7 linked regions of the Homo sapiens genome follow. The protein of the gene in region 7 purifies or fractionates together with the protein of the main gene of each other region. This does not show direct contact. Each region holds a gene or a part of one and is shown on either strand. Other genes may lie near its edges. The genes, in order: PLD2, PPP2R2B, RIN2, RCC2, TERT, GTF2I and RPS6KB1.

Region 1 (3,500 bases), about 55 Mb from region 7:
AGTTCAAGACCAACCTGGCCAACATGGCAAAAACCCGTCTCTACTAAAAATACAAAAATTAGCCAGGCGTGGTGGCGGGCGCCTGTAATTTCAGTTACTTGGGAGGCTGAGACAGGAAAATTGCTTGAACCCAAGAGGCGGAGGTTGCAGTGAGCCAAGATCATGCCATTGCACTCCAGCCTGGGTGACAGAGCGGGACACCATCTCCAAAAAGCTATATATATATTTTTTGATACTGCCAAATTGTCTCCTAAAAGTTATATTCCCATAGTCTATGAGAATACCCACTTCCCCAGCATATTGAATATTGATATTGAATGTTACCAGTGATTTGAATTATTACCAATCTAATGGATTTTTTAAATGTAATTTCATTTTAATTTCGTTGTTTACTAGTGAAACTGAACATTTGCCACGATTGGCCATTTTAATTTCTCTGTGAACTGTCAGTTCTTACTCTTTGCTCATTTTTCAGTTGGCTCATGTGACTTTTTCTTGTCGATTTATTGGTGTTCTTTATGTATGATGTATTAATCCTCCTGTTCTTTAGTTGATTAGGTTATTGTGTCTTTTTGTAATTTTTATTTGTATTTAGCGCATATGGGCAAACACTATTTTGATGTGTCTGATACCACTTGTGTTCTCTGATCATTTCTGATCTTTGACCTTGCTGTCACCTCTGACCCACGACTGTCCTCCGGTCTTCACTCTCCAGAGCTTTCTGGCTTCTGACTCCCCTGACCTCCTTGGCTTGGCCTCCCCCCAGGTTTGTGAATGGGGCAGGTTACTTTGCTGCTGTGGCAGATGCCATCCTTCGAGCTCAAGAGGAGATTTTCATCACAGACTGGTGGTGAGTGGGAAAAGGCCCCAACAACATGGGGCAGGATAGAGCCTGGGGCAGATCAGCATTAGGAGGAGAAGGGGGGTGCAGCTGGTGGTCTGGGGCTTCGTTTGCCCCTAATCCACTGCCCTGAATCCCAGGTTGAGTCCTGAGGTTTACCTGAAGCGTCCGGCCCATTCAGATGACTGGAGACTGGACATTATGCTCAAGAGGAAGGCGGTGAGGAGAGTGGTCAGGCCGCAGGGGGAGGGGGTTGCCTGTGGGTGGAGGTTGATTAGCAGGGCTGCAGTGTGGGAGAATTAGGCAGTCTGAGGCTTCAGGGGAGGGAAAAGTGTCCATCCTGGCCCAGCACCTGTCAGACATCACCTCCGCCCTCTCCCTCTGCCCTAAGGAGAACTGACAACTTCCTCTTCATGCTCCCTCCACCTGGCAGAGACTTCCCTCCCAGTATACATAATACTTTATTGTGTTATCTGGGGGTATACATGTCTATCTCTCTCACTGGACTAGTTAATATCACTGTTCCACTACAAGGCACAGTACCTGCCATGGAGGGGGCATGTGTGGTGTTGATGGACAGGAAGAAGGATGCATGGATGATGCAGGGTGGCTGGGCAGGTGGATGGATAGAGGACAGAAAGGGTGATGGATGGAAGGATATGAGTTGGAAAGGTGGAGGGCTAGGAGGGTAGGCAGGTAGATGGATGAATGATAGACGGTACATAAAGGGATGAGTAAATGCTTGGGAAGATGGATGGATGGATGATGAAGGGTGGGTGGATAGATGTGTGGATGGGTGAGTGGGTGAGCACACAGATGACATTTAGTCTAAGTCTGTGGCAAGCAGCAAAGCAGGGCATATGTGGCAGAGCCTCTAGGATCTCCAGACAAGCTGGAGGGACACACGTGGAAAAGGTTTGGGAGTGTGGAAAGGGGCTACTCTGGGAGAGGCACTAGGATCTGATTCCCCAACTCACCACCAGGAGGAGGGTGTCCGTGTGTCTATTCTGCTGTTTAAAGAAGTGGAATTGGCCTTGGGCATCAACAGTGGCTATAGCAAGAGGGCGCTGATGCTGCTGCACCCCAACATAAAGGTGACTCTCGGCCTCAGAGACCCTCCCACATGACAGCCCTTCTCCCCACACTGTCCCAGCCCCCAGCGCTCCCGCTCCCTGATGGTCTCATCTTTCCATCTTTCCTCTCTCCCTCCCAGTACCTCCTGTTTTCCTTCACCTAAACCCACCCTCATGAACCCTCCATGCCTGCTCCAGGTGATGCGTCACCCAGACCAAGTGACGTTGTGGGCCCATCATGAGAAGCTCCTGGTGGTGGACCAAGTGGTAGCATTCCTGGGGGGACTGGACCTTGCCTATGGCCGCTGGGATGACCTGCACTACCGACTGACTGACCTTGGAGACTCCTCTGAATCAGCTGCCTCCCAGGTAATCCCCCTGAGGCCTTCCTGAGCACCCCCAAACTCAGATAAGCTCAATCAACACCATTTCCCAGCTCCAGCCTTACCCCCTCAGTCATTCCAGGCCCTGCCAACCTCAGGGTTCCTCAGACTTTCTGGGACTCCAAGAACCCACTTTGAAAGTGCTGTAACTGGCCGGGAGCCATGGCTTATGCCTGTAATCCCAGCACTTTGGGAGGCCAAGGCGGGTGGATCACCTGAGGTCTGGAGTTCGAGACCAGCCTGACCGACATGGTGAAACCCTGTCTCTACTAAAAATGCAAAAAATTAGCTGGGCATGGTGGCAGTTGCCTGTCATTGAAGCTACTCGGGAGGCTGAGGCAGGAGAATCACTTGAACCCAGGAGGCGGAGGTTGCAGTGAGCCGAGATTGTGCCATTGTACTCCACCCTGGGCAACAGAGCGAGACTCTGTCTCAAAAAAAAAAAAAAAAGTGCTGTCACCCACCCAGTCCTTTCCCCATTTTCACTGACCATCACCCCATTCCTCTAAAAGTGTCAAAGGCAACTGGAGGGGAGGGCTGGGGAATCAGACCCTCTGTTTCATTCTTCCTCTCGGTCTCTCTCACTCTTTCAGTGCTCCTCTCTTTGGCCCTGGCTCTGTACAGCCCCATGACTTCCCCTTGCCCCTGGCTTGGGTGTGTTCCCCCTACAGCCTCCCACCCCGCGCCCAGACTCACCAGCCACCCCAGACCTCTCTCACAACCAATTCTTCTGGCTGGGCAAGGACTACAGCAATCTTATCACCAAGGACTGGGTGCAGCTGGACCGGCCTTTCGAAGGTGAAGCCTCCCACCCGCCAAAGCCCCAGAGAGCTGAGAGCAGGGTCAGAAGCTGGGGCTGGTACTGAGAGTGGGATGAGAGGGGTCAACGGTGGTACAGCCCTCCCTCTGGCAGGCTCTTTCTCCCTGCCCCAAGTGTCCCAAGGAGTCCAGCCCTGACATCTCCCCTGACTCTCCTGGGACCCCCCAGATTTCATTGACAGGGAGACGACCCCTCGGATGCCATGGCGGGACGTTGGGGTGGTCGTCCATGGCCTACCGGCCCGGGACCTTGCCCGGCACTTCATCCAGCGCTGGAACTTCACCAAGGTGTTCATTCCCTCCGATAGGGGCTGGAGGTAGGGAGGGAGCCAGGGCAGATTGGCACCTCCTGCTGACTCTGCCATCCCTCCACGTCAGACCACC
Region 2 (3,500 bases), on a different chromosome or scaffold from region 7:
ATTAAACAAGATAATGGAAAAGATAATTTAAGTGGTTTTACACTGGAGTGAATATTCCTTCTTCTGAAGGAAGCACATATTTCTCCAAGGATAGGGTTTATATGCATTGCCTTTGTGAGGTGACTTTCATATGCCTCTGTCCCTTTGCTGCTGATTTTGCTAATACTGACATGCGTATTTCCCCAATTCCTGTCTAAGCCAATGGAGGATAAGAGAGCCAAGTAGGACGCTTTTCTGCAGGGCTGAGTATTATAAACATTGGCCAAGCTGAAGAGTGGAATCTATGTTTACCAGGGTAAAGTACCCACATTCAAAAGCAGCTGAGGCTTTTCATATCCCACTTAAAGTCTGCCAGTACTGAAGGTAGAAAATAGTAATATCTTTGTGTGAACACAGCGTATTTGTTTGATGAGTGTGATTTCCTTTTAGGGACATGAGTTGCTTTGAGATCTTTTTCCCTTTCCATGGTCTAAATTTAATCTTTGGATATTAAGCAATGATTATGAAACATAAAGATCTTATTAGCTGAAAGGACATGTTGCTTGATGATGAGACACTGGAAATCTCCAAAGAGGACTCCAAGGGATATTCCTCTCTTAAGAGCTTAAAAAAAAGTCAATGTGTAAATATTCATGGAGTGTTTGCCAATTCCTAGGCTCAATATGAGGAGACTGACAAAGAGACACATGGTGTCATATTAAATATGTATTGGGCAGGGTGAAAGCCACTGAAGCAGCAACAGGGGAGAAACTTGTACTAGACCCCACAGTTCCCCTGGAAGCCTGCCTGGCAGAATCCCACTGAATTAAAAGGAAGCTGCTGTCCATGGTAGTAATGAGTGCTAGAACCTGGAAGCCAAGAGTTGAGGCTACCTGGTCCCTTAATTAGGGAATCGACTCTAACAGGGCTTCAGCTTGGTTGACAAATAAAATGAAGCCACTGTACAGGGTTGTTAGGACCAAGGTCAAAGTTGAAGTATCCCTAGAGTCCAGCTGGCTTCTCCCAGATAAGTCCTCTATCTCATATTCAGAGACTGGACTTCTGAAAGGTGAGGCTTCTGCTACCCTTCCCAGCCTTGCTTACTCCATGCTCCACTTCACTCTCTGGGCTTCAAAAATAGTGGCCTTCTTAGAATTCCTCCAACATGTCATACTCTCTCCTGCCACAGGACCTCTGTACACACTGAACACATGTCTCCACACCTCTTTGCCAAGTTAGTTCATAGTCTTCCTCTTTCAGATCTTAACTAATTCTTCAGCAAAGCCTTCCCTGGTCTATAGCAGGATTTTTAAAAATGCATTCATAGAACCATATTCCCTGTCTTCACAGAAATTATCTCAGTTTGTAATTATATACTCAGTGTATTTGATGAACATTACTCTGAAAGCGGCAAATTTGTTTTTTCCCATTTTCATGCCTGGCACAAACTAGGTGCTCAATTTATCATCGTTGAGGGCTAGTCTTTATTTTTACTCGATATGGGCCTATTTAATAGATCCCATGTTGGACAAGGTAAGAACTCAGGTCAGTTCATTCTTAGTCCTGCAAAAAGAGTTCAAAGGATTCTAGGTATACCATAGTTTTCATAAAGAAGCAACATCTTTTAATATAAATTTTCATTTATTGCTATTGTCTCTTGCCCTAGAAAACTACTAATCTATTAATGAGTTGTTATAGTCCTGATGTAGTTAGCCTATTAAGACGAAAGTTTGACTGCTTATGTGGGAAACTGTTACACAAGACAAGGACAGACTGGCTATGGATGGAAGGGAGAGAATTCATGACCAGTTATCATGAGGTTTAGAAATGCCTTGCTCTGATCTGGTGCTAAACACAAGGCCCTAGACCTCAGAGTTCCTGAAAACATTTAGTAACTAGGGGGCAGCATCTTGCAAAGGACACCCAACTGCAGAACCAAAGGAAGAGTCTAGAATTGAAAAGACAATCCAGATAATAAAATTAGCAGAATAAAAGCTACCATTCTAATGTTCAACTTTTCTAGTTTCCTTGTTCTCTCAATAATTATCATGATTGTGCTAGTCCTGTTTACTGAGCATTTGCTTAGCAAGGCACTACCCTAAATGTGTGCGTGCGTATGTGTGTGTGTGTGTGTTTAATTTTCATAATCCTCTCGTGATAGAGCTGCTTTCTACAGATGAACAAAATGAGAAATGGAGGCTTGGATAGATTAAGAACATGTTAAAGCTTATACAGCCAGAAAAGTGGTAGGGCTGGGTGAGACCTCTATCACTTGTTGGACTCTGAAGCCTGAGTTCTCAACCGTAATGCCAAAGTCACACCAAATGCCAGTCACAGGAAGTCATGACTGTTTTCTAACCATATCTCCAGATCCCTTGTCTCACTATTTACTTAATGCTTTACATACACTTACTTTGTAATCTAAATAGATTTTGAATATCTATGAAATTGTAGGATATGATGGTTATGTTTTTTGACGTTCACTATTGCTTAGAAGCACATTGCTTACCATCCCCAGTAGTAGCCACACTATGCTTTGGGAATCCCAAATTATTCTATCCTGAACCATGTTTCTTCTGTCTCCTTTGTGAATAAGGGGCATTGTGGAAATGAGACCTGCCTGGTGGCTGGTATTTTTCTGAGACTGTTTTGAAAGATGGCCGCTTCCTACCCCAGAGGTGGCTATACTTCAGTGATGAGAGGCTCAGTGCTTAGGGCGGTCTGGTTGAAAAGAACTATATAGATATCACTTATCATCGTTCTCATGATGACAATGATTATTTTACATATGGCTGCTTTAAGGGTGAATGGCACGGTCTCATTTGTATGCCAGCATCTGGCAGTCTGTCACACATCTGCAGAATATAACCTAAACTGCGCTGTTAATATTTCCCCTTTGCATTCTCCCCAAGGCATCTGTCTCCCAAAATGCCTAAAGAAACTCCCCTCCCCCTTGAAGGCCTAGAGGCAAAATTCAGAAAACATGTCACCTAGACTGGGGAAGCAGAAGCTCAGAGTGACAGCCAGCTGAGCCTGAGCAGATTTCTGGCTCTTGGAATAGATGGAGAGAGAAAAAGGGAACCACCACCCACACTCATTCTATTAGCAGCTGCACTGCCAGGCAAAATCTGTAGGCAGGCCCAGACAGCATGTGGAGTCTGTTCCGTGATCAACAAAATATGCCAGGCATGGTCCTGATGGTCAGTTCTCATTGTCTCCAAATATATCTCATAATTGCCACTATCTGATTAAAGCTGCCTTCCCTGAAAGCCCTTGGAGACGGTTGAGTGCTCTCCATGGTGGAGACTAGCTAGCTGTGTACCAAAACCGGGTCTTTTTATCCTGGGCACACAGCCAGACTACATTTCCTAGGCTGCCTTGCAGTTAAGAGTTAGCCATGTGGCTGAATTCTAGCCAATGGAATGCATACTTTTTTAGGGCATGGCTCAGAGGAATCTCCCACTTGTGATCTTCCATGACCTTCCCCTTTTACAGTCCTGCTATAAACATGGTAACATTGG
Region 3 (3,500 bases), on a different chromosome or scaffold from region 7:
ATTTGGCAGGTGGTTTATAGAGTAGGAACAAAAGTTTATTCCTTTTTCCCCATAGTTTTCCCCTAGGTCTGGCATCATTTGGTGAATAAACCTGCCTTTCCCCAGCTCCATAACACATACAAATTCTACTAGGAAGGGCAAGTCCCACTTCACTTTCTGCGTTTTTTTTTTTTTTTTTTTTTTTTTGACAGAGTCTTGCTCTGTCTCCCAGGCAGGAGTGCAGTGGCATGATCTCAGCTCACTGCAACCTCTGCCTACCAGGTTGTACTTTTAGTAGAGACGGGGTTTCACCATGTTGGCCAGGCTGGTCTCGAACTCCTGACCTAAAGTGATCCACCTGCCTCAGCCTCCCAAAGTGCTGGGATTACAGGCGTGAGCCACCGTGCCAGGCCACTTTCTGCCCTTTTATCTTCTCCCCCACCCCCAAATCTTCTTGGCAAATTCACTTATTAATTCTTCCAGTGAAATTTTATTCCAGGGGATTTGTTTGGAATTATATTAAGCCTAATTTGGGAAGACCCGAAAGATAGTTTGGGATCCTCTTTTTCTGGGAAACCATGACATTGAATTAGAGCCAGTGGGCATTGATTGTATGTGTTCAGGCCACACATGCACACTGATCCCTGGGGTGGCTGGTGAGGAAGGCACAAACCCAGACTGGAGGAGACTGGCTTCTGGTTTCAGCTCTGCTGGGAGGTGTGGGACCTTGGCTGGCTCAAAGGTTCATTTGCACTCATGTGTGTAGGCGCTCCTTTAGGATTCCAGGCTTCAAGGACCTAGCAGCCTAGCAGGGGATACTTACACAGACTGGGAAGGGCAGGACAGTGTGGTCAGTGCTTGACTTGAGAGACAGACATACTTGTGTTGAGTTTGAACTGGAAGACCCCTAATTCAAGTTCTTTGTTGCTTTCCTTTGCAATGGTTTTTCTCCTTGATAATTTAGGGATCCCACAAAGTCAGAGGCTCTTGTCTTTTTAGAAAAGGCATTTATCCCTCTTCCTTTTATGAAGTAAGCACAGGGATCTTGGGGGTGGGATGGGGTGGGTTTAGGAGATTCCTCTGGCTCTCTGCTAGACTAATGTTGTTGAAGGAAGGTGACTTCATCCTCATGGATGGCAAGACCCTTTGGAAGGTTTCATGGCTTGTGAGAAAAGGAGGCTACAGAGGGAGGGAGGGAAGGAGGGACAGCCAGTGGGATGGACCAGGCACAGATGGGGAGAATGGTCCTCCTAGGTTGACGGAGGCGCTTTATTAGGGTGGCTTCTTCAAAGCTTCTTATCCCCTCAGTCCTGTGAGGTCTGATGTCTGAAGTGACAGTCAGACAGCTCCCTGTCCTTCCCTCATGGTGGGAGGCTGCTCCTGGCCATCTGTCATGGATGGGGCACCCACCCATCCTCTCTGTATTCCGGGATTCCTGCCTTAACAGATGGTGTGTGTTTCGTATGACAAACACTGTCTCTGGGCACACCTCATACCCTAGTTTTCCCCAATATTTGCAGCTAATGTCTTTCCCTAAACAGTTTACAGGATGACCTTAGACCACATATATGATCTAAATAATACAAATAACCTACTACACTTTAGTATCAGCTTAGGCACTCTCCCTCTTTTAAACTGTGCTTCCATGGGACGTTGGGATCAGAGGTAGAGTCATTTCAAAGAACAGGGCTAGGAAAGGGCAGATTCAAGGTTGGTTCCCAGACCACTTTCTATTCAAGGGCAATGTGGTTGCATACAGAAGGGGTACTTCATCCTTTCCTGGGCATCAGAAAAGGATTCACAATGGAAGAGATGTCTAAGCTACGGTGGATGGAATCATCAGTGTTAACTAATAACACGTGGGTTCCAGGCAGGAGCGGCAAGTACAAAGAGTGAGAAATAAGCTGGGTGTGATGGCTCACACCTGTAATCCCAGCACTTTGAGAGGCTGAGGCAGGCAGATCACTTGAAGTCAGGAGTTCAAGACCACCCTGGCCAATATGGTGAAACCCCATCTCTACTACAAATGCAAAAATTAGCTGGGCGTTGTGGCACGCACCTGCTACTCGGGAGATTGAGGCAAGAGAATTGCTTGAACCCGGGAGGCGGAGGTTGCAGTGAGCTGAGATCGCGCCACTGCACTCCAGCCTGGGCAATAGCGTGAGACTCCATCTCAGAAAAAAAAAAAAAAGAAAAAAAAGAGTGAGAAACAAGAGAGGCTTGGAGCACCTAGGGAAGGAACGTGGAGTTTGTAGGGGCCAAGGGAAAAGTTCTCCTTCACCTGCTGAAGGTTTGCTGTAAAATCAACTCAGAAAAGGCAGGTTAATTGGGGAAAAGGCATACAGATTTACTTAACGTGTCTACAGAGGAGCCTTCAGAATGAAGACCCAAAATACAGGGGAAATTGTGTTTATGTTTAGGTTCAACAAATATGGACAGCCGTGTAGAAATGTGACTGGACAAACAGTCTGATTGAGTGCGAACAGACTGCTTGGGGAGATCCAGCAAGGCCTGTCTGTCTAGATTCCTCCTGGTCTCTCTGAGCAGCATTCCTTTCTTCCAGGTATGGAGCTGACCCTCTCCGGAATGCTCTTATGACCTATAGTTAGTCACAGTAGGTCAGACAGTTTCTTTATGGCCAGTTTTTACACAGAATGGTGGAGGGAAAGTTACAGCAGTAAGTTTAGGTTTTGTGGCTGGCTCTGGGGAAAAGAGGTTATGGGTCCTATGACCCACTTTGAAGGAGAATTCTAGTTTCTCTGGCTAGCCTCAGGGAGGATGGGACTGAGAGACCAGAGGGCAGGAGGTCAGAGAATGACTTTTGCTTCTGAGGCCCTCATTTTGGGGTACTGTTTTCTGAGCTCCTGCGAGTTCATTATGGCACCACTTAGAATGCGAGGCTCCTGGCCAGGCGTGGTGGCTCACTCCTGTAATCCCAGGACTTTGTGGGGGCTAAGGCGGGTGGATCACCTGAGGTCAGGAGTTCGAGACCAGCCTGGCCAACATGGCGAAACCCTGTCTCTACTAAAAATACAAAAATTAGCTGGGCGTGGTGGCAGGTGCCCATAATCCCAGCTACTCAGGAGGCTGAGGTAGGAGAATCACTTGAACCTGAGAGGCAGAGGTTGCAGGGAGCCGAGATCACGCCACTGCACTCCAGCCTGGGCAACAGAGCAAAACTGTCTCAAAAAAAAAAAAAAAAATCAATGCAAGTCTCCTGCGAAACATGGAGAGAGACGGAGGATGTGACCCAGACCCTCTGAGGGCTTCAGTCCAGGGAGGGAGGCAAGAACTGTACCTGCAGGACAAGTGGAGGACAACTTAGGAGAGCGTCATGTCCCAATGATCCAGACTGTGTGTCACGATGGAGAAAGTCTGTGAGGGAAACAAACCAGGTTCTGCCTGGTCTCTCCCTATGTTTTGATCTAAATAGCATCTCAGGCTCCTTGTCTATAACAGGAGATGAGGGAAGGTCTCAGACCAGGTTCCCTAGAAGCAGACCCCGAGGTGAGGATTCATGG
Region 4 (3,500 bases), on a different chromosome or scaffold from region 7:
AATGCAGTGGTGGGATCTCAACTCACTGCAACCTCTGTCTTCCTGTTTCAAGCTATTCTCCTGCCTCAGCCTCCTGAGTAGCTGGGATTAGAGGCACCTGCCACCATTCCTGGCTAATTTTGTATTTTTAGTAGAGATGGGGTTTCACCATGTTGGCCAGGCTGGTCTCAAACTCCTGACCTCGTGATCCACCTGCCTCGGCCTCCCAAAGTGCTGGGATTATAGGTGTGAGCCACCGCGCCCGGCTGTTAGTGTATCTTTTAATTTTAATGGCCTTCCTGTGGTTCTTCTGTCTGAGAATGCCTAGGAGTCTCTTTGTTCTATGCTTTGTTGAAAAAGCCTGGGCTAGGATTCCAGAGATCAAGTTGGTCCTCCCCACTGAGTGGTCTCAGCTCACCACCTCCTTCCCTTGGAATCTTCTTGCCGATGAAGAATGCCCAGGGAATTGGGCTAGGACTAGGGTAGGAGATTTCAGTTTGTGCAAGTCCAAAAACTGATTTGTTTTGTCTGATGTAGTCAGGGGAAATAAAGTTGGCTCTTGTTTAGGGCCTTATAGGCCAAGTTTTTTAGTAAGTTGTAGATTCCCATGGTTTAGACATGAAACATCAAAGAACTGAATTGGCATGTCAGAAGATGGGAAAACGAGACTGAAGAAGATAAATCTTAAACACTTGAAGTGTCTCTGAGTTCATTTCATCAGTGACCAGGTACAGGTTACCTCTGTACCTGTGGGTGAGGGAAGTCTAAAGAAAAATCCAGGCCGGGCGCAGTGGTTCATGTTTGTAATCAGAGGACTTTGGGAGGCCAAGGTGGGCAGATCATTTGAGACCAGCCTGAGCAACATGGTGAGACCCCCATCTCTACAAAAAAACCACAAAAATCAGCTGGGCATGGTGGTGCACACCCAAGTCCTAGCGACTTGGGAGGCTGAGGTAGGAGAATCGCTTGAGCCCAGGAGGTGGAGGTTGTGGTGAGCCGTGATCGTGCCATTGCATTCCAGCCTAGGTAACAGAGCACGAGACCCTCTCGAGGGGGGGAAAAGAAACGAAAAATCCAGGAACAGGTAGGCCTTTTCTGTTCTTTCTGCAATTGAATCTGTTTTTTTTTTGTTGTGTTTTTTTTTTTGTTTCGTTTTGTTTTTTTTTTTTGAGATGGAGTCTCATTCCGTCACCCAGGCTGGAGTGCAGTGACGCTATCTCGGCTCACTGCAGCCTCCGCCTCCCAGGTTCAAGAGATTCTCCTGTCTCAGCCTCCTGAGTAGCTGGGATTACAGGTGCACACCACTGTGCCCAGCTAATTTTTTTGTATTTTAGTAGAGATGGGTTTCACCATGTTGCCCAGGCTGGTCTTGAATTCCTGAGTTCAGGCAATCCACCTGCCTCAGCCTCCCAACGTGCTAGGATTACAGGCATGAGCCACTGCATCTGGCCGAATCTCTGTTGTAGTGGGAATCAAATGATTGCCCAACTCTCAGGAGACATAGCCCTGTTGCTTCTGATTAAGGAAAGGGTTAAGACTTGTAACTTAAATAAATAAACAGAACAAAAAAGGATTGGAAAATGGAGTCCCTGGCAGAGAAAATAGCAAACTGGGCTTATTGAATGCATGCCATTTTGCTACACTTGCTCCTGTTGCCTCCTCCCCCACTGCTGGAGGCGGGAGGTAGAGGATCTTTCTGCTGGAGGCAGGCAAAGGATATTTCTTTGGTTTTTGGAGACAGGGTTTCACCATGTTGGCCAGGCTGGTCTCAAACTCCTGACCTCAAGTGATCCACCCACCTTGGCCTCCCAAAGTGTTGGGATTAGATGTGAACCACCGTGCCCGGCTGGTAGGGGATCTTGAATGTTGCTGTTCCTTTGCCCTTAGCATTTGCACCAGGTTGTCTGCACAGAAACGATGACCCCTCTTGTTGCCTGTTGGAAGTCTGTTTGTTCCAACCCTGTGTTTTCTTTCCTTGCAGCTGGTCCTGGACTCCCAGAAGCGAGTCTTCTCCTGGGGCTTTGGTGGCTATGGCCGGCTGGGCCACGCAGAGCAGAAGGATGAGATGGTCCCCCGCCTGGTGAAGCTGTTTGACTTCCCTGGGCGTGGGGCTTCCCAGATCTATGCTGGTTACACCTGCTCCTTTGCTGTCAGTGAAGTGGGTTAGTGATTTCTGCCCCCTGGCTTATCAGTGCTCTGGTGCGGAACCGTGTAGCCATTGTCCTGTCCCTAGACCACGAACCCCAATTCTCTTTACCTCCCAGTGTTCTTTATTTTTTTGAGACAGGAACTCGTTGTGTTGTCCAGGCCGGTGTCGAACTCCTGGGCTCAAGCAGTCCTACCACCACAGCGTCCTGAGTAGCTAGGACTGCACAGGCACGCCACCACGCCTGGCTCCAGTTATCTTTTAGACAGAACACTTGTTTGCCATCCCGTCCTCTTTTCACCCTGATAATACTGAAGATGAGACTCAGCTCTCGATGTCTGGTCACGCTGGGAACATGTTTTGTCTTCCCTTAGGTGGTCTGTTTTTCTGGGGGGCCACCAACACCTCCCGTGAATCTACCATGTACCCAAAAGCAGTGCAGGACCTCTGCGGCTGGAGAATCCGGAGCCTGGCTTGTGGGTAGGTGGCAGCATCTCCTGTGGGTATGAGGTCTCTTCCTTTCATGGGGGTGTCAGACACACCCATGGGGTGCCCCTCCCTGATGGGGCTCTGTTTCTGCTGCCTGTTGGGCTGTCCTCAGCAGGCCATCTGACACACTGAATCCCAGAGTCCGGGGGTACAGGAGGGGAGAGGGCCCATTTGCTGCTAGAACAGATGGCTGTTCCCTGTCTTGTGGGAAGAAAGTCATTTTGAAGGTTTCTGTTCAAAGAAATAAACAAGCAGAGCTTGATGTATTCCTACGCTGCAGGTTGAAAATTATACGTAGTTGGAAACGTAGCAGGACTTGAGTTGCTGTGACACTGGGAAGACGACATTGTCTTGGCAGCAGTGGTTTGTAGTTCATTTCAGGACACCTGTTGAGTTAGCTAGCACTTCTTGCTGAGGAGTTGGATTTATCAGCTGGCAGGTGTGGGTGGAACAGTATGAGGGGCCTCTGTCGGCGTGGCTTTAATCTGTTGAAGGCTCTAGCCCTGCCCAAATCATTATGCATGAAGGCTGCTCCCTCTGGAACAGGCTTTCACTTTATCCTGATCTGGTCTCCTCTTCCCAAAGCGACCTCCCACTGAGAGAGAGCTGTGCAGGATGCACAGCAAGGTCCCCTGCCTTTGGCCCCTAGGCCTGTCTAAGGGCTTTGTTGTTTTGTTGAAGCGTTGAGTGGCCTGCACGGAACAATCTTAGGATTGAGGAGAAACCTGTTGGCCCTGTTATTGTGTTTGCTACTTGGAATGAGTACGCCAAGGGAAAAGTGGCAGCTCACACTCATGCCCTTGAGCCATAGCTGCGTGGGTGCAGGTCTGGGGCTGCTGGCCCTGCAGTGACAGCCTGCCTGTTTGCAGGAAGAGCAGCATCATTG
Region 5 (3,500 bases), on a different chromosome or scaffold from region 7:
TTTGCTACTGTGAATAGTGCCGCAATAAACATACGTGTGCATGTGTCTTTATAGCAGCATGATTTATAATCCTTTGGGTATATACCCAGTAATGGGATGGCTGGGTCAAATGGTATTTCTAGTTCTAGATCCTTGAGGAATCACCACACTGTCTTCCACAATGGTTGAACTAGTTTACACTCCCACCAACAGTGTAAAAGTGTTCTGGTGCTGGAGAGGATGTGGACAGCAGTTATTTTTTTATGAAAATAGTATCACTGAACAAGCAGACAGTTAGTGAAGGATGCGTCAGGAAGCCTGCAGGCCACACAGCCATTTCTCTCGAAGACTCCGGGTTTTTCCTGTGCATCTTTTGAAACTCTAGCTCCAATTATAGCATGTACAGTGGATCAAGGTTCTTCTTCATTAAGGTTCAAGTTCTAGATTGAAATAAGTTTATGTAACAGAAACAAAAATTTCTTGTACACACAACTTGCTCTGGGATTTGGAGGAAAGTGTCCTCGAGCTGGCGGCACACTGGTCAGCCCTCTGGGACAGGATACCTCTGGCCCATGGTCATGGGGCGCTGGGCTTGGGCCTGAGGGTCACACAGTGCACCATGCCCAGCTTCCTGTGGATAGGATCTGGGTCTCGGATCATGCTGAGGACCACAGCTGCCATGCTGGTAAAGGGCACCACGTGGCTCAGAGGGGGCGAGGTTCCCAGCCCCAGCTTTCTTACCGTCTTCAGTTATTTTTCCCTAAGAGTCTGAGAAGTGGGGCCGCGCCTGATGGCCTTCGTTCGTCTTCAGCTGGCACAGAATTGCACAAGCTGATGGTAAACACTGAGTACTTATAATGAATGAGGAATTGCTGTAGCAGTTAACTGTAGAGAGCTCGTCTGTTGGAAAGAAATTTAAGTTTTTCATTTAACCGCTTTGGAGAATGTTACTTTATTTATGGCTGTGTAAATTGTTTGACATTCAGTCCCTCGTAGACAGATACTACGTAAAAAGTGTAAAGTTAACCTTGCTGTGTATTTTCCCTTATTTTAGGCTGCTCCTGCGTTTGGTGGATGATTTCTTGTTGGTGACACCTCACCTCACCCACGCGAAAACCTTCCTCAGGTGAGGCCCGTGCCGTGTGTCTGTGGGGACCTCCACAGCCTGTGGGCTTTGCAGTTGAGCCCCCCGTGTCCTGCCCCTGGCACCGCAGCGTTGTCTCTGCCAAGTCCTCTCTCTCTGCCGGTGCTGGATCCGCAAGAGCAGAGGCGCTTGGCCGTGCACCCAGGCCTGGGGGCGCAGGGGCACCTTCGGGAGGGAGTGGGTACCGTGCAGGCCCTGGTCCTGCAGAGACGCACCCAGGTTACACACGTGGTGAGTGCAGGCGGTGACCTGGCTCCTGCTGCTCTTTGGAAAGTCAAGAGTGGCGGCTCCTGGGGCCCCAGTGAGACCCCCAGGAGCTGTGCACAGGGCCTGCAGGGCCGAGGCGGCAGCCTCCTCCCCAGGGTGCACCTGAGCCTGCGGAGAGCAGGAGCTGCTGAGTGAGCTGGCCCACAGCGTTCGCTGCGGTCACGTTCCTGCGTGGGGTTGTTTGGGATCGGTGGGAGAATTTGGATTTGCTGAGTGCTGCTGTCTTGAACCACGGAGATGGCTAGGAGTGGGTTTCAGAGTTGATTTTTGTGAATCAAACTAAAATCAGGCACAGGGGACCTGGCCTCAGCACAGGGGATTGTCCAATGTGGTCCCCCTCAAGGGCGCCCCACAGAGCCGGTGGGCTTGTTTTAAAGTGCGATTTGACGAGGGACGAGAAACCTTGAAAGCTGTAAAGGGAACCCTCAGAAAATGTGGCCGCCAGGGGTGGTTTCAGGTGCTTTGCTGGGCTGTGTTTGTGAAAACCCATTTGGACCCGCCCTCCAAGTCCACCCTCCAGGTCCACCCTCCAGGGCCGCCCTGGGCTGGGGGTATGCCTGGCGTTCCTTGTGCCGCAGCCCGGAGCACAGCAGGCTGTGCACATTTAAATCCACTAAGATTCACTCGGGGGGAGCCCAGGTCCCAAGCAACTGAGGGCTCAGGAGTCCTGAGGCTGCTGAGGGGACAGAGCAGACGGGGAACGCTGCTTCTGTGTGGCAAGTTCCTGAGGGTGCTGGCCAGGGAGGTGGCTCAGAGTGTATGTTGGGGTCCCACCGGGGGCAGAACTCTGTCTCTGATGAGTCGGCAGCCATGTAACAGGAAGGGGTGGCCACAGGGAGCTGGGAATGCACCAGGGGAGCTGCGCAGCTGGCCGAGGTCCCAGGGCCAGGCCACAGGAAGGGCAGGGGGACGCCCGGGGCCACAGCAGAGGCCGCAGGAAGGGAAGGGGATGCCCAGGCCAGAGCAGAGGCTACCGGGCACAGGGGGGCTCCCTGAGCTGGGTGAGCGAGGCTCATGACTCGGCGAGGGAACCTCCTTGACGTGAAGCTGACGACTGGTGTTGCCCAGCTCACAGCCCAGCCAGGTCCCGCGCCTGAGCAGGAACTCAGAACCCTCCCCTTTGTCTAAAGCACAGCAGATGCCTTCAGGGCATCTAGGAGAAAACAGGCAAAGTCGTTGAGAAACGTCTTAAAAGAAGGTGGGATGGTGGCAATTTCTTGTCCAGATTTTAGTCTGCCCCGGACCACAGATGAGTCTATAACGGGATTGTGGTGTTGCCATGGGGACACATGAGATGGACCATCACAGAGGCCACTGGGGCTGCACCTCCCATCTGAGTCCTGGCTGTCCCGGGTCCAGGCCAGGTTCTTGCATGCTCACCTACCTGTCCTGCCCGGGAGACAGGGAAAGCACCCCGAAGTCTGGAGCAGGGCTGGGTCCAGGCTCCTCAGAGCTCCTGCCAGGCCCAGCACCCTGCTCCAAATCACCACTTCTCTGGGGTTTTCCAAAGCATTTAACAAGGGTGTCAGGTTACCTCCTGGGTGACGGCCCCGCATCCTGGGGCTGACATTGCCCCTCTGCCTTAGGACCCTGGTCCGAGGTGTCCCTGAGTATGGCTGCGTGGTGAACTTGCGGAAGACAGTGGTGAACTTCCCTGTAGAAGACGAGGCCCTGGGTGGCACGGCTTTTGTTCAGATGCCGGCCCACGGCCTATTCCCCTGGTGCGGCCTGCTGCTGGATACCCGGACCCTGGAGGTGCAGAGCGACTACTCCAGGTGAGCGCACCTGGCCGGAAGTGGAGCCTGTGCCCGGCTGGGGCAGGTGCTGCTGCAGGGCCGTTGCGTCCACCTCTGCTTCCGTGTGGGGCAGGCGACTGCCAATCCCAAAGGGTCAGAGGCCACAGGGTGCCCCTCGTCCCATCTGGGGCTGAGCAGAAATGCATCTTTCTGTGGGAGTGAGGGTGCTCACAACGGGAGCAGTTTTCTGTGCTATTTTGGTAAAAGGAAATGGTGCACCAGACCTGGGTGCACTGAGGTGTCTTCAGAAAGCAGTCTGGATCCGAACCCAAGACGCCCGGGCCCTGCTGGGCGTGAGTCTCTCCAAACCCGAA
Region 6 (3,500 bases), on a different chromosome or scaffold from region 7:
TACTGACTCACCAATAGGAACAATTCACCTGGTAAAATGAAACATAATGAACGTATTCTATTTAAAACTATGAAAGAAAGAAAAATAAAACGCTTACTTACCAAAGGAAAACTCTCTCCCTCGTGGCTTGAAGGGAACGTTAGAACCGTTAGTCTGGGTCGGGGTTCGAACAGCTGAGGTTTGAGGATTGTTGTTATTAGGGCCTAAAAGACAGAAAAAATAATGATAATCAACACACATTTAATGACGTAAGTGTCTCTAGGTTACAATCTTCAAGTCCAGCCTGTGCCAGAAAACAAAGCTAGGTTCAAATTGAAATGGGTATTCTTGTCATTCCGGCGAGTTCCACAGAAACCATTTTTCTATTTCTACAGAAACCCATTTTTCTTCTCTTCTTCTTCTTCTTCTTTTTTTTTTTTTTTTTTGAGACAAAGTTTCGCTCTTGTTGCCCAGGCTGGAGTGCAATGGCGCAATCTCGGCTCACCACAACCTCTGCCTCCTGGTTTCAAGCGATTGTCTTGCCTCAGCCTCCTGAGTAGCTGGGATTACAGGCATGCGCCACCAGGCCCAGATAATTTTGTATTTTCAGTAGAGATGGGGTTTCTCCATGTTGGTCAGGCTGGTCTCGATCTCCCAACCTCAGGTGATCCGCCTGCCTCGGCCTCCCAAAGTGCTGGGATTACAGGCGTGAGCCTCCACGCCTGGCCCTAATTTTGTATTCTTAAAGCAGGCCTCCCAGGCCCCGTGAACTTGGCTCTGCCCTTTAGGAAAGGCTGGCATCTTGTATATAAGAGAGATCTTCCTCTGATCTCTTCCGGAAGGAGGAAAGTCAAGGGTTCAATATATTTTTAATTCTTGGCATTTTTGAACAGAAATAATTAATCAGGTGTAAGTTGTCCATGGATGCTTGTTGGCTATCTTATGAGAAAGCAGGCTCTCTGAAAGTGTGCCACATGACTAAATAGGGACTTCTGCGCCACTCAACACCAGTACGGCAAACTCTTATTTAAAAACTTGACACCTGGGATGTAGAGAATGATCCTAATGCAGTGATTTCCTTCTGCATTTATGAAGAGATGGAAGAAATATCCATACTTGACAGTTGGTTGGAGATTGTCTTTAGTATTGTATGCAGTATTTTAACACTGTGAGCCTGAAAAGACAAGAACCAGCTGGGCGTGGTGGCTCACTTGAGGTCAGGGGTTCGAGACCAGCCTGGCCAACGTGGTAAAACCCCGTCTCTACTAAAGATATAAAAATTAGCTGGAGTTGGTGGTGGACGCCTGTAATCCCAGCTACCTGGGAGGCTGAGGCAGGAGAATCACTTGAACCCGGGAGGCGGAGGCTGCAGTGAGCCGAGATTGTGCCACTGCACTCCACCCTGGGCAAGAGAGCCAGACTCTGTCTCAAAAAAGAAAAAGAAAATACTTTTATTCAAGGCACTGCTGTTTAAACCACCCTAAACTTTCTTTCCTTAAAACAATAGAAAAAAATGAAGAGGAAAAAAAAGATAAAACATTCCACATGACTCTGCACCCTTATTTGTTATGATAAAGGAAAAGCATTTTAGGACTTTTCTTGGGGGAAGTTTATGATGTGATCCATGTTATCTGTTTTCTATTAAGGATTTAAAAATTTTCAATTAGAAGCATTCAGAAATTTAGCTTTATCACAGGCAGCTGTTCACAGTTAAAAGCTAGTTTGGTTAACGTCATCTGTATAAACCTGTATAAACACATAGCTAGTGAACTGACATAATTAGTAAACTAGAGAATGAACAGAAACATACCGAGGACTGGCCCTTACCTTCCACGGTGACCTCAATTTCAGGAACCTTTGAATTACTCCCAGGACTTCGTGGTCTTTTGGGGGACTGCAAAGCTGTAAAATAAGCAGAGTTCCTTTTGTATATTGTAGGGAAAAAAAAATACAGAAGGAGATGCTTTATAAGAGCAGAGTATTAAAATTCATACAGTTTGGTTCTTTTCAAAGAAACCTGCAGAATTAAACTTGTAGTGTAATCCTCCACAGGGGCTCAACAAAGCTGTGAAAACATGAATGAACTGGGATTGCAAATGTGACATTTCCAATGAAATGTTTTGTTTTTTTAAAAAAAAAAAAGAAAAATAGTTCCATTAAATAAAATACCTTAGAAAGCAAAGTAAACAACTCCAAGCCCCACAGAGATATTGGCCGATTCCGTATGATTTAAGGAATGCGGATAAAGAGTGTCTTAATGCGCTCAAATAGGATACGGAGTACACGTCGTCTCTTACCTTTAGTGTTTATTTTACTAGCCATCCCAGGAGGCAAGTAGGAAATAACTAGTTCAGGTCTAGAAAGAAAACCAAGAAGTGTTACAGTAGCCAGCACAGTGGTGGCCTCACAGCTAGTAAAACGGTCGTGATGTGATCAGGGTTTTTTTTCTAAAGGCATTCACAGAATCATCCTGTAACACAATAATTCCTAGTGTTGTGGACAAAAGACCCTGACTTTTCCTTCCCATGACTGGTAAGCCATTTTATGAAGAGTAAATAAGTGACTATTTTCATTAAAAAAGAAAAAAAAAACACTAGTGTACTTTCTTTAGCCACTAAAATTCTGCAGAAATGTAGATAAGAAAATCAATCATTAGGCCGTGCACGGTGGCTCATGCCTGTAATCCCAGCATTCTGGGAGGCTGAGGCGGGTGGATCACCTGAGGTCAGGAATTCCAGACCAGCCTAGCCAACACGGTGAAGCTCCATCTATTCTAAAAATACAAAAATTAGCCAGGCGTGGCGGTGCAAGTCTGTAATCCCAGCTACTCGGGAGGCTGAGGCACGAGAATTGCTCGAACCCAGGAGGCGGAGGTTGCAGTGAGCTGAGATTGCGCCACCGCACTCAAGCCTGGGCGACAGAGCAAGAGTCCGTCTCAAAAAAAAGAAAGAAACTCAATCATCAATATTTAGTCGCTCTCAAGATTGACCAGGAATAACAGAGCAGATAAAAACCAGCAAATTAAACTTCCATTCAAGTACTCAGGCATACTGCGAGTCACCACGGGGCCTCACGGTGACTCCGCGGAGGCGATTGTCACTATTTTCCTTGCACGGATGAAGATGATTGAGTATGGGCAGGGGCAATGGACAGTACCCGGACTGCAGCTCACAGCCAGGCTTTGCCATCAAGGACTTACAGCCACGCCTGTCACCTCTAGCTTGAAAAACATCTTAACAGAAATGTCATTTTATTGTTTTGATTCCAGAAACGACTACAGTGGCAAAAAGAACTTACTTTTTAACAACGAACTTGATTTTATTACTCCCGCGGACGATCCTTTCAAGTCGTGGAATTCCAAACCAGGTAGGGCTTCGGAAGGGAATCCCCTCTGGCAAGCCTTCCACATACAAGAACTCCGGGTTTGATTCAAACACAGGATATGGTACTTTTACTGCCTCGGTGAGTCCAAGAGCTTGAGCTGAAAGTGCAAGAGAACGTTAAGTTGCGGAGGATAACAT
Region 7 (3,500 bases):
CCACTGGTAACATGTTCAGAAAGCACAGGACAGGTCTCTTGCTATAGTGACTCAGCACAGACCAATAATACATGCAGCTTTTAACTGTGCACCTACTGCTCCAGTCAGCATGTCATACATTAATGCTCCCAAACTCCACCAATCCACAGCACGATTGTGGCCACTTCTCATCAAGATTTCAGGGGCCCTACAATGAGGAAAATAATATGCTTAAAAATTCACCCATTTGCATATCATCTGAATTAGAATTTTAAAAACAATATACAGAGTCAATGAGGGTACAGAAAACAGATACTATTCCTTAAAACAGGTAAAATTAGCTATTACCCCCAAACCAATTATGTTTAACATGTAGCTCACATGTATTCTATTGTTCCACAAAATGTGTGTGTGACTGTTCCATCATGAATAGATTCTTTGCATAGTCCAAAGTCTGTTAGTTTCACATGACCTACAATGAAAGATTACAGCATGATTATTCTCCGAATTATAAGTATGTGCAGTGTTTGAACATGTCACATAATACTTTAATCTATCCTTCCATTTAACTTTTCTTGCCTCAAATTTTCTTGCAGATGTCAAGAACAAGGTACCATCCATAAAATGGGATGCTAACTGTTTAAGGCTAGGGCAAAGTCACCTTTTGCCAATGATACAATCTATCTAGTAAAGAGAAAATAAAGATAGAGAAAAAAGTGAAATAACCTGTTTAAGGCTCTAGCTTTAAGTATATACAAAATTCTCTACCATCCTGAAAAAGAAAAATCCTGGGAAAACTGTTTTATGAAGTCTAGTTTACGTACACAGACCCCAATAAACATACTCTGTACCTTTTGAACAAAGGTGTGAGACAGTACTTCAAATATATAGCTTTTATCACAGTGAACTGTGAAGAGTCCTTAAAATGGTCTCAGAAACTCATTATAACAAGGTAGCTCATTCTGCCCAATGCTACCAATTAGGGGAAAGAAAGAAAATTGCTAGATAGTATGAATCAATCATCACTGATCCAGAAAGTAAAAAACTTACCACCTTACACAAAGATCATTTCAGTTCAAGTTTAGCTTTCTTTACTGGACTGTCATAACAAGTGGTTCAACAATCTCAGGGACTCTAGTATTTGAGGTTCATTTCACAGAAAAGGCACAATGACCTATTGATTCAAATGTAAATATATACTACACTCTGATACAGAAGAAGTATGGCCTTTATTTTCACAGAACCATCTGATACACTCAACCTTATAAATCAAAGAAGTTAACTATTCTATCGCTCCCCTATTCTATCCTGTGACTTATAATTCAGATCAGAATCCACGTTTTGGGGAGTGAGGAGGTGTTGATGAGAGGAAGGAAGAGACACTGATTCCCATGATATATTCAGTTAAGTATATCATTTCTCCTTAAAAAAAAAAAAAAGGTGGGTGGAGGAGTATAATCTGGAATGTTTATATGAGCCTCAGTTGTTCATACATCATTTTCTAAGAGTTTGAAACAATTAACTACCTCATGGATTATTCTGTAGACATCTAAGGATTAGCAGCTGCTACCACCTTCTAGATACCCTGGGTCAGCTGGTTGCTCCTTTGGGGTACGAGTGAATTGCCAAGTCTACCTACAGCCCAGATTAGCATAAATTGAGCTGTCTTTAGCAGCATGCAGTTGTAGTCAAGGCTCACTGTGCTATATCTATAGTTGTATAGATTATCAGTCTCTCTGATGTTTATGTTTGTTGTTACAAACAAACAGCAAGAATAAACTGATTCTGGCTGGGGGGAAGGTGGGTTATGCCTGTAATCCCAGCAATTTGGGAGGCCAAGGCAGGCAGATCAATTGAGCTCAGGAGTTTGAGACCACCCTGGGCAACATGATGAAACCCCATTTCTACAAAAAATACCAAAAATTAGTCAGGCGTGGTGGTGTGCCACAGTGGCCCCAGCTACTTGAGGGGCCGGGGTGGAAGGATCACTTGAGCCTGGGAGGCGGAGGTTGCAGTGAGCTGTAATCATGCCACCATACTCTAGCCTGGATGACAGAGTGAGACCCCCATCTCAAAAAAAAAAAAAAAAAAGTAACCTGATGCCTACTAAACATCATATTTCCAAAGTTTTATCAAATACTTTGGTTCAATTTCAATCCTTTTCCCAGCATTAATAAAACCTACTGTAAGAAGCATAGCTTCTAATATTCACATATTTTCTTTTTTTTTGAGACGGAGTCTCGCTCTTTTCACTCAGGCTGGAGTATAATGTCGCGATCTTGGCTCACTGCAACTTTCGCCTCCTGGGTTCAGGCGATTCTCCCACCTCAGCCTCCTGAGTAGCTGGGATTACAGGCACCCACCATCATGCCCAGCTAATTTTTTTTTTTTTTTGTATTTTTGTAGAGATGGGGTTTCACCATGTTGGCCAGGCGTCTTGAACTCCTGACCTCAGGTGATCCACCCACCTTAGCCTCCCAAAGTGCTGGGATTACAGGTGTCAGCCACTGTGCCCAGCCAATATTTACATATTTTCATTATTAAAACTCAACTTATATAATTGAGATTCACTTTTCAATTTAAGTAACAAGCCAAAATTAATGTTTAGACTGGCTTTTACAGTCTAAAACATTATACAACATTTGATGTAAAGATTCCAAAAACATGAAAAACTATAAAGAGTAAGGATTAAACTAAAAAAGGCAGTTGAGCGACTATTATCCTCAACTTCTTTTACTCTCACCAAGCGTAATTACCTAAAGACTTAAAATATCAGCAAGTACTATGATGCCATGAATTCTGAGGGAGGAAATATACAAAATAGAGAGATGAATTTGGGGCTTTGAAAATGGCCACGACCTATGTGGGAGGATTTTAAGATGATTATTTACTATAGAATTGTTTACGGTATGTCTCCACCTTGGTGATTAAGCATGATATTCTCCGGCTTCAGGTCTCTGTAGATGATCCCCTTTTGATGTAAATGCCCCAAAGCCATGGAGATTTCTGCCAAGTAAAAGCTGGAAACAAAAGTGATTTAATAAAATTAAAAAGAGTGTAATCTATCCAAAGCAGTTTACGTATGGAGCAAAATTCCTTGAAAGAAACAGACATGCACCAAAGACCAAATTAGTGGGGTAGGGGGATGTATTGGAAAAAGAGATGGCATAGGATGCTGCCAAAAGGCATGGGGACATTTATGTTTCACTCATTTTAGTGAAACTATAAAGTGCTTTATTTTGCCATTAGAATATATTGCTAAAATTGCAAAGATGTCCAGAATATGCTAAACTGCCATTGGTCATGTTTTGTTCTGTCTGTGTAGGAATTAAGCTAATAGCCATTCATTTCAAGCAAATTTCTCCCATCCACACCCAACTTTAAAATCCCATAGGAAATAGGAACTTTGTTATTCTCAGAGATCACATCTTGATTTCAAAAGGTATCTTATAACCTGACCCTTAGAAGCCCACTCATCCCTTACTTAATACAGCTACATATTTATAGACAGCTGAGGCCCA

The links.
Region 1: the proteins of RPS6KB1 (region 7) and PLD2 purify together in Homo sapiens (affinity purification with western blotting, with the first as the bait; one study listed by BioGRID). This does not show direct contact.
Region 2: the proteins of RPS6KB1 (region 7) and PPP2R2B purify together in Homo sapiens (co-immunoprecipitation; one study listed by IntAct). This does not show direct contact.
Region 3: the proteins of RPS6KB1 (region 7) and RIN2 purify together in Homo sapiens (affinity purification with mass spectrometry, with the first as the bait; one large-scale study listed by BioGRID). This does not show direct contact.
Region 4: the proteins of RPS6KB1 (region 7) and RCC2 fractionate together in Homo sapiens (co-fractionation; one large-scale study listed by BioGRID). This does not show direct contact.
Region 5: the proteins of RPS6KB1 (region 7) and TERT purify together in Homo sapiens (affinity purification with western blotting, with the first as the bait; one study listed by BioGRID). This does not show direct contact.
Region 6: the proteins of RPS6KB1 (region 7) and GTF2I fractionate together in Homo sapiens (co-fractionation; one large-scale study listed by BioGRID). This does not show direct contact.

Annotation. Positions count from the first base shown.
Region 1 is NC_000017.11:4,813,652-4,817,151, forward strand, and holds part of PLD2 (phospholipase D2), read left to right. Parts: intron 1-766; coding exon 767-850; intron 851-981; coding exon 982-1,060; intron 1,061-1,824; coding exon 1,825-1,935; intron 1,936-2,112; coding exon 2,113-2,283; intron 2,284-2,890; coding exon of another isoform or gene 2,891-2,929; exon of another isoform or gene 2,930-2,968; coding exon 2,969-3,095; intron 3,096-3,285; coding exon 3,286-3,404; intron 3,405-3,424; coding exon of another isoform or gene 3,425-3,494; coding exon 3,495-3,500.
Region 2 is NC_000005.10:146,644,758-146,648,257, forward strand, and holds part of PPP2R2B (serine/threonine-protein phosphatase 2A 55 kDa regulatory subunit B beta isoform), read right to left. Parts: intron 1-3,500. UniProt on the Homo sapiens protein: The B regulatory subunit might modulate substrate selectivity and catalytic activity, and might also direct the localization of the catalytic enzyme to a particular subcellular compartment.
Region 3 is NC_000020.11:19,764,758-19,768,257, forward strand, and holds part of RIN2 (ras and Rab interactor 2), read left to right. Parts: intron 1-3,500. UniProt on the Homo sapiens protein: Ras effector protein. May function as an upstream activator and/or downstream effector for RAB5B in endocytic pathway. May function as a guanine nucleotide exchange (GEF) of RAB5B, required for activating the RAB5 proteins by exchanging bound GDP for free GTP.
Region 4 is NC_000001.11:17,412,178-17,415,677, reverse strand, and holds part of RCC2 (protein RCC2), read left to right. Parts: intron 1-1,960; coding exon 1,961-2,141; intron 2,142-2,499; coding exon 2,500-2,605; intron 2,606-3,483; coding exon 3,484-3,500. UniProt on the Homo sapiens protein: Multifunctional protein that may affect its functions by regulating the activity of small GTPases, such as RAC1 and RALA. Required for normal progress through the cell cycle, both during interphase and during mitosis.
Region 5 is NC_000005.10:1,264,069-1,267,568, reverse strand, and holds part of TERT (telomerase reverse transcriptase), read left to right. Parts: intron 1-1,033; coding exon 1,034-1,105; intron 1,106-2,976; coding exon 2,977-3,165; intron 3,166-3,500. UniProt on the Homo sapiens protein: Telomerase is a ribonucleoprotein enzyme essential for the replication of chromosome termini in most eukaryotes. Active in progenitor and cancer cells. Inactive, or very low activity, in normal somatic cells.
Region 6 is NC_000007.14:74,744,718-74,748,217, reverse strand, and holds part of GTF2I (general transcription factor II-I), read right to left. Parts: intron 3,461-3,500; coding exon 3,277-3,460; intron 2,336-3,276; coding exon 2,277-2,335; intron 1,882-2,276; coding exon 1,807-1,881; intron 204-1,806; coding exon 102-203; intron 1-101. UniProt on the Homo sapiens protein: Interacts with the basal transcription machinery by coordinating the formation of a multiprotein complex at the C-FOS promoter, and linking specific signal responsive activator complexes.
Region 7 is NC_000017.11:59,931,121-59,934,620, reverse strand, and holds part of RPS6KB1 (ribosomal protein S6 kinase beta-1), read right to left. Parts: intron 3,000-3,500; coding exon 2,899-2,999; intron 452-2,898; coding exon 361-451; intron 188-360; coding exon 97-187; exon of another isoform or gene 93-96; intron 1-92. UniProt on the Homo sapiens protein: Serine/threonine-protein kinase that acts downstream of mTOR signaling in response to growth factors and nutrients to promote cell proliferation, cell growth and cell cycle progression.